Regions from separate parts of the Homo sapiens genome. Here region 2 is linked to region 1. Evidence: fine-mapped expression QTL. A gene starts in region 1. The other region holds a variant in brackets. All regions are shown on one strand. Distances are between the middles of the regions.

Region 1 (5,376 bases):
GTGCCTGTGCCATCTTCAGGGTTAGGGTATTGGAGGCCTCTTGAAGGCCCACCTACCCACCCTCCAGCCCCCATGGGAGGGGCAGGTCCCATTGTTCAGGCTTGGATGCTCAAAGCACTGGCAGCTGAGGGGTAAGACAATCCTCTGAGGCTTGGGGTGTGATGTCTGTCCATTCCACATGCCTTCTGAGGCCCCACTGTATGCGGGAAGGGCGCTGGGGTTGGGGACCCACCAGGAAGTGCACGTACTCAGGTGTGCCCTGCGTGGAGGGAGCAAGCCAGCCAGTGAGCAGAGAGACTGGTGGGAGGCAGAGGAGGAAATCCAGGAGAGGAACACCAGGGAGGGAGGCGCCCCCAGGCCAGGGAGGGCATCGGGAAGAAGTGGCATTTAAAGGTGATTCTGATCGAGCCTCTAGACCTAACCACCATCGACAGGAAATCCAGGGTATGGCGCTGCAATGGGCTAAGTCCTGGCTGTGGGACCTACAGGACAAACAACCCAGGGTCCCTCCACTATGCTGTGTGGGAAAACGGAAAGGACCAGGGGAACGTGTGGATGAAAAGTGAATTCATCCACGTGACAGCTCAGGGAATGTGTGGACCTTATTTGGATTCTGATTTTTTTTTTTAATTTAACATTTATAAGGAATTGGCACTTGGAATGTTTTCTGGATATTTAATTATATTGAGGAATTATTGCTAAATATCTCTTGGGGTATGATAACGGTAATATTATTTCATATGTATATACACATGGATATAACATGTAAAACATGTATGTCTATATAAAACAATATTACTATTATACATGTGTATATATGCATATACATTTATGTGTGTGTATATTTAGTTATTTAAAGGGTTCTTGGCTGGGCGCGGTGGCTCATGCCTGTAATCCCACTACTTTGGGAGGCCGAGGCAGGTGGATCATCTGAGGTTGGGAGTTCGAGACCAGCCTGGCCAACATGGTGAAACTCCGTCTCTACTAAAAATACAAAAATTAGCTGGGTGTGGTGGCACACACCTGTAGTCCCAGCTACTCAGGAGGCTGAGGCAGGAGAATCGCTTGAACCCAGTGGGGTGAAGATTGCAGTGATCCGAGATTGCAGCACTGCACTCCAGCCTGGGTGACAGAGTAAGACTCAGTCTCAAAAAAAAAAAAAAAGAGAGAGAGAGTTCTCATCTTCTAGATACACACTAAAATGTTTATGGGTAATGTCATCTGACATCTGGGATTTTCTTCAAAATGACATGAGAAGGCAGAGTCGATGTGGCTGCAGCAGGGACAGGGGACTGGCTGTGAGCTGAGGTTTGTTATGGTCTGGATTAGGGGTTCATGGGATGCATTATATGATTCTGTCTAGTTTTGCATATGTTCTAAATTCTCCATAATAAAAAGTAAAAAACAAAAATGGAGGTTTGTGAGACTTAGGGTTTGGGGCAGGGGGCCCGGCATCTGGTGGGAGAAACCACTCAGACGAGGCTTGGGGTGAGGGCGGCTGTTGGGCATGTGAGGCCCCAGGGGTTCACAGTTACTGGAGCGTGAAGCTGTTCCAGGCACTTCACGTACCAAGAGCACCGAGGCTCAGGCCCTGCACTCCAGGACACAGACCAGGTTCAGTGGAGAGCCCTGGTGGGACCAGAGCCCAGTGGGAGGGCCCTGAACGGCCTGTGGGGCTTGAAGGAGGGGAACAGAGGCAGCGTCCATTTGTTCTGTAAGGGCCGGGAGACCAGGTGGTAAAGGAGGCCTCAGGCAAAGACAACCCAGTGTCCTGGGATCAGGGAGGCCTGGGGATGGAGCAGCAAGAACATGGTCATCCAGGCTCCCAACGAACCTTTGCTGGAACTGTAGGACACCCACTTTTGCTTTGGAAATCCAACTTCTCTTGTATTCTTCCTGGGTGACCTTGGGCAAGTTACTTAACCTCTCTGATTCTGTTTCTTCCTATGTAAAGTGGGGATAGGAATAGTACCTACCTCATGAGGTTGTTATAGGATTAATAAGAAAATACTCATAAGCATGAAAAAGAGTGCATGTTAGCTATTATTATCCTCTGAGTTTCAGGGAGGAAACTGCCCTCCCTTGGGGCAATGAGGTGATGACAGCAACAACTAAAATGAGAGAACCCCAGTGGGGAGGTGGGAACATCACAGTACTCCCTGCCACCCTTACCAGGTTTGTGATTATTTTAAATAAAACATGCTGTTTCCTGGCCAGGCACAGTGGCTCACATCTGTAATCCCAGAATTTTGGGAGGCCGAGGCAGGAGGATCACCTGAGGCCAGGAGTTCAAGACCAGCCTGAGCAACATGGTGAAACCCCATCTCTACTAAAAATACAAATAATTAGCAGGGCGTGGTGGCAGGCCCTGTAATCCCGGCTACTCAGGAGGCTGAGGCAGGAGAATCGCTTGAACCGGGAGGCAGAGGGTGCAGTGAGCCGAGATCCCACCACCGCACTCTGTCTCTAAAGAATAAAAAAGACATTATTTCCTTACAGCTGTGAGCAGGGGCAGATGCAGAAAAGAAGGTGCTGGGAAAGAGGCCAAGTAAAAGCCACTGGACCTTCTGAAGGAGAAAGTGTGGTTGGCTGGAACCACTAGGCCAAGAAACCAGCCAAGGGTCTGGCTCCGGGTGGCCTTTTTTTTTTTTTTTTTTTTTAAGAGACGGTGTCTCACTATGTTGCCCAGGTTGGTCTTGAACTCCTGGGCTCAAGCAATCCTCCTGCTTCGGCCTCCCAAAGCACTGGAATTAGAGGTGCAAACCACTGCACCAGCCCAGACTGGGCTCCAGAAGCTACCTCTGGGCCCTGTTGCCACCTCTTAGGTGGCTTCTGGAATGGGGGTCTACAGGTGTGAAAGGTCAGCCCCCCTGAGGGAGAGGTGGGGCCCGAGCAGGCTCCTCCCACTGCGGGAGTGCTGGCCTTTCCCCTGCAGGGCTGTGGCTCTGGGACCACTTCCTCTTTCTTCACTCTGAAGCCAAGAGCCGACCTTCTGAGCCCTCAAGAAAGATCAGAACAGATTCATGGGTGATTTAGCCTATCTGTCCCAGGCCAGCGTGGCTGAGTGTGCTGGCTGGAGGCCTCTCTCTCTGCTTCGAGGGTAGCTGAGATCCACCCCGGAAACCGGCAGGATGAAGGGGGCAAGTGAGGAGAAGCTGGCATCTGTGTCCAACCTGGTCACTGTGTTTGAGAATAGCAGGTATGGGCAGCTGGGGTGGGAGGGTCACCATGGTGGGCTGGCAGCCACCCTCCAGCCTTTCTGGCAGCTCTCTCCCTGGGCCCTGCCCCGGACCCTCCTCCTGCAGGGGCAGCCCCGCGTTCCTCGGTCACGGATTCCTTGGAGCATGGGAGAGTGTCGGTGGGACACCAGGAGCCAGGCAGGGGTGAGAGTGCCAGTGTGTGTTGGGAGAGTCCAGACAGGTGTGGTTACGAGCAAGCATGGGCAGACCAAAGCCTGTGTGTGGGCACAGGACCCCACCCAGTGCCTGCCAGCACCTCTCAGAAAAGGTAGCTGATACTCACCAAGAATTTACGCCCTATGATTAGGATAACCATATAATTTATCATTCAGCACACAATTGAAACTGAAAGTAAATGCCAAATAAAATGTGGTGGTTGTGGGGGAGGCATTACAGGTAAAGCTGGGACCGTATGAGGCAAACCAGGATGTACGGGCAGCATCCTGATGGGGTACTCCCTACTCTAAGTTCATGTCCTTACTTATTTAATTTAGTCATCGAACAGCCTAATAGGGGTAGATTCTGTTTCTGTTCCCGTCTTATAGATGAGGAAATGGAGACACAGAGAGGTGAGGATGCCAAGTGCTTTAAGTATCTGGGGCAATGCTGGGGCGTCTGTCTGGAGGGAAAAGGCTGGGCCAGATGCGTGGAGTCATTGGTAGCCCTGGGAGCATGTGTGTTTGTGTGTGTGCGCGTGTGTGTATGTGTGTGTTGTGTGTTATGTGTGGCATCAATCCATTCTGCAGGCATTTCTTAAGCTCAGGACTGTGTTAGGGGCTGTCCCAGGTAGGGTTTTCTGGAAATAGACTCAGACAGAGGTTTGCCTCAGGTGATTTATCAGGGAGAGCTTTTGGGAACAACAGCTGTGGGTGTGAGGGAAGCAGGGCCGGGCAGGGGGAGATGCTGAACTGCAGTGCACCTGCCACAGAGGCCTCAGCCTGTCCCAGGGAGCTCTGGAGCTGGGATGCCTCTCGGTTGTTCCAGCTGAGGAAGAGGGCTGGGTATTTGTATCTCCATGTGGACTGGACAAGAGACTCTGGGTGAGGCAGCTCTCTCTTCCAGAGAGTGATTCCCAGAGAGGGACTCAGCCAATAAATTACCCGGCAGCCCCCAGTACTACCAGTAGCTGGTGGGGATGGTGTGGGGAGGCCTCATTCCTGAAGGAGGGACATGGGTGGCACAGCACAGCATCCTACAGGAACTGTAGAGGATGAAGAAGGGTTTCAGTATTTGGATGCTGAGCTCATCGAATAACTATGATGCAAGGTCATAGACAGTAGATGTCCTAGGAATGGCCCGGATGCTGTATTGAGGGCACTCATGGCAGGCAATGTTTCCTGTAGGCTTCAGGGTGGAGATGGCATAGATGTAGACCTAGAAGTCTTCAACTTCCTGAGCTGGGTGATTCTCCCCTGCCTCTCCCGGGATCTTTGCCAAGCTCGTCCTGTTCAGCACCAAAGACAGCTCTTGGGTGCCGCCTTCCTGGCCCACCACCCCCTTGGGTGTGGGTGGATGGTACCACCTCACTCAACATGCTTGACGTGGACTAGGCACACCTGGGTGGAGCCCCTCAGCATGCTGTGCTCTGCCCAGGCAATAACCCTGGCAGGAGTGGGCAGCCCTTAGACGGGAGTTAGGTCCCAGCAGGCATCAAGAGGGTGAGAGCCACTCCTTACTGAGTGAGGGGACCCATACCAACTGCCTTGGCCTGGGCTTCCTTATGAGGTCTCCAGCACCTCAGCTGATCTGAAACTGAGGGGCAAAGAGGAAACAGAAGCTGGCCAGGGGCCCTAGAACAGAAATGCAGAACCTGAAACCAAATGTAGAACAGAAAGCCTGAGAACCAGCTACGCCCATGAGCTGCAGACCCATGGGCTGAGAAACCAGGGACTGGGGTGCCAGGGAGGGGTGGGAGAGCCTGGGAGTAGCCACACAGCACTAGGTCCCAATGCTTTCGCTGCCACAAACCCAATTGTGTCACTTGGGGCAAGTCACTTTGACTCCGCGGACCTGTTTCTCCTTTACTCAAATGGGGAGGGGCAGGTTAGAGTGAAGGCTCAGGAAGCAGTCGCCTGATTTGAATCCCACCTCTGCCACTTCCGAGCCGCATGTTACTCATCCTGTCCAGACCTCAGTT
Region 2 (5,376 bases), 25 kb after region 1:
GGCAGCCAGTTCTTCTGTCCTCTTCCTCGATGGCCTTCACCAGCCCACCCCCAACCCATGGGGGTTTAGGGTGTGAGCTGTGCGTGCGTGGCTGTTGCCTTCACGATGGCTATCTGGGGCAGTAGGACTGAGAGGGGACAGTGGCCCACTGCTCTCTCCTCCCCCCAGGACATGAGGGCTCACACCTCCATCCCCCTGCTGGGCTACCAGGTGACTGTTGGGCCCCAGGGGGACCCTCGGGTCTTCCAGCTACAGCAGTCAGGCCAGCTCTACACCTTCAAGGCCGAGACGGAGGAGCTGAAGGGCCGCTGGGTGAAGGCCATGGAGCGGGCGGCCAGTGGCTGGAGCCCCAGCTGGCCCAACGATGGGGACCTGTCCGACTGAGCCACTGCCAGCCGCTCTCCTGCCCACCTCTCCCCACCCTGAACCCAGCTCCTGCCACAGACTGACCCTGTGGCCTCAGTGACCCACTGCCCCAAGTGGTGCTTTCAGAGAATTGATTCAGCCATCTGCGCCCAGGCCACGTGTCCCGATCTGGGATTAGAAAATATGGGTCCATTCCTTTCTAGAAAGGGGACAACCAAGTGTCTCAGTTTGCCTTGCGGGGAGGGGGCTCCTGGGCCATGGGACTTCCAGTGCTAAAACTGGGAAAGCCCCAGGTAACCCCGGACTGGTGGTCACCATAGTATGGTTTTTCATTTGTATCTCCTGGGGAGCTTTTAAAGAGTACTGGTGAAAAACACATAGTAAATTAATTTTAAAAATGTAAAAAACAATGCCTGTACTGAAGTACCACCACCGATTTAAATGGGCTGAGTTGGGGGAGGCATGGGGTCTTTTTTTTTTTTTTTTTGAGACAGAGTCTTACTCTGTTTCCCAGGCTGGAGTGCACAAACATGGCTCACTACAGCCTCGCTCTCCCGGGCTCCAGTGATCCTCCCGCCTCAGCCTCCCAAGTAGCTGGGATTATAGGTGTGTGCCACTGTGCCAAGCTAATTTTTTTATTTTTTGTAGAGATGGGATTTCACCATGTTACTCAGGCTGGTCTCAAACTCCCAGCCTCAAGCGATGCTCCCACCTCCACCTCCCAAAGTGCTGGGATTACAGGCGTGAGCCACCATACCTGGCGCATGCATATTTTTTAAGAGTACCCACTGGAGTCTAATATATAGCCTGGGTTACCTGGGATGAAGAATAAAGAGAGCAAACTACCACAACCAATGGTTGAGCCCCTGTCAAGTGCCAGTCATGATAGTAGTAATAATAATAATAAACATCTATTGGACCAGGCTCTGTGCAAGGTGTTTTATGTGGATTATGTCATTTTACCATCCAGAGTTATCCCCATTTCCAGATGAAGACACCGACTCAGAGAGGTTTAGTAATTGGCTCAATTGGTCATGTAGCTCGTAGATGCCAGAGCCAGGTTTTAACCCGGTGAACTAAGGTCAAAGCTCTTTCTATCATGGAGCAGAACAATAAGACAAGCAGAGAGGGGAGGAGAGTGAGGAGAAGCAAAAGAGAGGGAAAGAGAGTGAAGAAGCTGGGAAGACAAGAGAGAAAGGTGAATGGTGGGAGGAAGGGTGACGGGAGGAGCATCCCTGTCCCCTCATCCCCACCTCGCTGGTGGGTGAGGATGCTTTTTCATAAGAGACCACCAGGGGGTGGCAGTGGTCAGCAGGCCACATGCAGTGGCCCCAGCAGTGGCCAGAACACCCTCAGCTGCTCTCAGCAGGTCCAGCCATTGCTGGGCTCTGCCCTGAAAGGAGGAAGCATGGATGAGTCACAGGTTTTTGTCCCATCACAGGCCCAGCAGCTTTGCCTGCCTCCAACCTGAGGCCACTTCCCTCCTGTAGGGTGTTTGTTTGTTTATTTGAGACAGGGTTTTGCTCTGTCATCCAGGCTGGAGTGCAGTGGTGTGATCAGAGCCCACTGGAACCTTGACCTTCTGGGTTTAAGCTATCCTCCTTCCTCAGCCTCCTGAGTATCTAGAAGCACAGGTGCACGCCACCACATCCAGCTAATTTTTAAAATTTTTGTAGAGATGGGGTCTCACTATATTGCCCAGACTGACCTCAAACTCCTGAGCTCAAGCAATCCTCCTGCCTTGGCCTCCTAAAGTGTTGGCATTATAGGCATGAGCCACCATGCCCGGACAGCATCAGCATTTTATTTATTTTTTATTTTTATTTTTATTTTTGAGATGGAGTCTGTCACTCTGTCACCCAGGCTGGAGTGCAGTGACGCCATCTTGGCTCACTGCAACCTCTGCCTCCCAGGTTCAAGTGATTCTCCTACCTCAACCTTCCAAGTAGCTGGGATTACAGGCGTGCGCCACCATGCCCGGCTAATTTTTGTATTTTTAGTAGAGACGGGGTTTCACCATATTGGCCAGGCTGGTCTCAAACTCCTGAACTCCGGTGATCCACCCATCTCAGCCTCCCAAAGTACTGGGATTACAGGCATGAGCCACTGCACCTGGCCTGCATCAGCATTTTAAAACTCGCCAATGATGCTGAAGGCAGCTGGCTCGGTGACAGCAGAGTCGATTCTGCAGCACTGATACCTAAGCTTTTCCAGGGGTTTAATCTGAGTGGGAGTATGGAGAGTGGCTTCACTGTGGAGCAAAATGAGGTAGCCGTCAGGAGAGGGAAGCGAGGGCACACAACCTTTGTGCTGTCATTGTTAGGTTTACTGAGGTGTAATTTACAGACTG[T/C]AAAATCCACCCTTATTAGTATATTTTCTAAGTTTTGGCAGAAGAGTACAGTCATACAGCTACCACCACAATCCCCCTATAAGTGTCCCCATGCCACCCTTTGTAGTCAACCCACACCCCTACTCCTTGCCTCTGGTAACCATTGATCTGTTTCTGACTGATAATTTTGCCTTTTCCAGATGTCATTTAAATGGAACCATAGCTTTTTAAGCCTGGCTTCCTTTACTCAGCATTATATATTTGAGATTCATCCATTTTGTTCTCCATGTCAGTAGTTCATTCCTTTTTCATTGCTGAGTAGTATTCCATTGCATGGGCATACCACAGTTGTTCATCTGTTTACCAGGTTAAGTATACTTGGGTTATTTCCAGTTTGGGGCAATTATGAATAATACTCCTATGAACTATAAACGTTCATGTTCAGTGTTTGTGTGAGCACGTTTTCTTTTCTCTTAGGTAAATACCTAAAATTGGGTCACTGAGTAAGTGTCTAACTTTATCAGAAACTACCAAGCTGTTTTCCATATTGGTTGTACCATTCTGCATTCCTACCAGCAATGTATGACATTTCCCCTGCTCATGCATTTGGTATAGTCAGGTTTGAAGTTTGTTTTTTTAAAATTAATAATTTTAGACATTCTGGTGAATGTATAGGGCTCATGACCTTTTAAATGTTTATGATACAAAGAAATGCATACAGGCTCACATCTGTAATCCCAGCACTTTGGGAGGTCAAGGCAGGAGGATCGCTTGAGCCCAGGAGTTTGAGTCTGTAATGAGCTATGATTGTACCACTGCACTCCAGCATGGGTGACAGACTGAGACCCTGTCTCAAAATGAAAAAAAAGTAGGTATTTTGCAAATGATTATTACCTACTATGTGTACCTAATACGTGCCAGGTAGTATACTACTTATACTACTTTTTCTTTTCTTTTTTTTTTTTTTTTGAGATGGAGTTTTGCTCTTGTTGTCCAGACTGAAGTGCAGTGGCACGATCTCCGCTCACTGCAACCTCTGCCTCCCAGGTTCAAGCGATTCTCCTGCCTCAGCCTCCCAAGTAGCTGACATTACAGGTATGCACCACCACGCCCAGCTAATTTTGTATTTTTAGTAGAGACGGGGTTTCACCATGTTGGCCAGGCTGGTCTCAAACTCCTGACCTCAGGTGACCCACCTGCCTTGGCCTCCCAAAGTGCTGGGATTACAGGTGTGAGCCACCACGCCTGGCAAGGTAATATGCTACTACTTTCCAAATCTCAGGGGCAGCTGATATCATGCAAAGGGCACCCCCTTGATAGCCTGAAAAGCTCAAATTCCAGTTCTGTTGAAGGCTTGACATAGGGTCTTGGGGATATCACCCAACCTCTTGAGCCTCCATGTATTCATTGTAACTTGACAAGCAGTGCCTCTTTGTAGGATTTGGTGTGAAAACCAAGTGAGATAATTCAGGGAAAGCTCCTAGCCCACAGACGGAGCTCGCTGGCTGGGAGTTGTTACTAGCTATGCTCTTCATGGACGTTTCTGCTTTCCTGGGACCATTTGTTCTGGCCGCAAGCCTGGTTGCTTCTACCTTCAGGATATACTGCGAACAGAGCCCGTCCTCACACCTCATACCCCTCACATGCTGTCACTTGGCCCGGCCACTGTGATATCTCTGGGGGTGATTGCTAGAGCTTCCCACCTGCCCTTCCTGCTCCCACACTTGTCCTCTGGCATCTTCACACAGATTCTTTCAAATCTGAAAGCTGAGCTAGTTTTCAGCTCCCAGCCCTCCAGTAGCATGGGGTTAGAAGCCCATCTAATGCCTCCCTCCGTGTGCTCCACCAGGCCCTTTGGGATGACCCCTGGCTGCTTCTCAGAGTTCCCCCTTCCCTTGCCCCATCTCACCTCCCTCCCTCAGCACACTTCCACCTCAGGACTCTTGCACCTGCTGCTCGTTCAGCCTGGATGCTGTTCCTCCAGAAATCCGCCCGATGCACTCCCTCACTTCTCTCCAGTCTCTGCCTCATTGGCCCTCGGACAGGCTTCCTTGTCCACCTGCCTCACGTAGTGCTCCTGGCAACTCTGCCCCTGACTCTGCTTCACATAATACAAATCGTTTTATCTATTTTGTTTCTTTCTTTCTTTTTTTTTTTCTTTAGACGGAGTCTCGCTCTGTCACCCAGGCTGGAGTGCAGTGGTGCGAGTGGCAAGCTCCGCCTCCCGGGTCCATGCCATTCTCCTGCCTCAGCCTCCTGAGTAGCTGAGACTACAGGCGCCCGCCACTGCGCTGGGCTAATTTTTTTGTATTTTTAGTAGAGACAGGGTTTCACCGTGGTCTCGATCTCCTGACCTCGTAATCCACACGCCTCGGCCTCCCGAAGTGCTGGGATTACAGGCGTGAGCCACCGCACCCGGCTTCTATTTTATGTTTCTTAGATTAGTGTCCTGTCTCCATTTTTGGAGGGCAGAGAGTTGGTCTTTTGTTCACTGCTGTTTCCCAGTGCCTGGCCCACAGCCAGTCCTCAATAAAAATCTGGGGACTGGCTGGGAGTGGTGGCTCACAACTGTAATCCCAGCACTTTGGGAGGCTGAGGCGGGCAGATCACATGAGATCAGGAGTTTGAGACCATCCTGGGCAACATGGTGAAACCCTGTCACTACCAGAAAATACAAAAAT

Evidence for each region.
Region 2: its variant is fine-mapped to the expression of FGD2 in whole blood (TOPMed, PIP 0.98).

What each region holds. Positions count from the first base shown.
Region 1 is chr6:37,002,687-37,008,062 of GRCh38, forward strand. FGD2 (FYVE, RhoGEF and PH domain containing 2) reads left to right here and starts at 2,969. Exons shown (of 16, transcript NM_173558.4): 1 at 2,969-3,199. The coding sequence starts at 3,132. RefSeq lists a silencer at 2,567-2,729 and enhancers at 2,985-3,114, 4,935-5,104.
Region 2 is chr6:37,027,780-37,033,155 of GRCh38, forward strand. It overlaps FGD2 (FYVE, RhoGEF and PH domain containing 2), which reads left to right. Exons shown (of 16, transcript NM_173558.4): 16 at 169-1,290. The coding sequence ends at 384. Among named protein-coding and RNA genes, the nearest start is that of FGD2, 25 kb to the left of the region's middle. RefSeq lists an enhancer at 1,864-1,943. The variant T/C (reference allele first, on the strand shown) is at 2,717.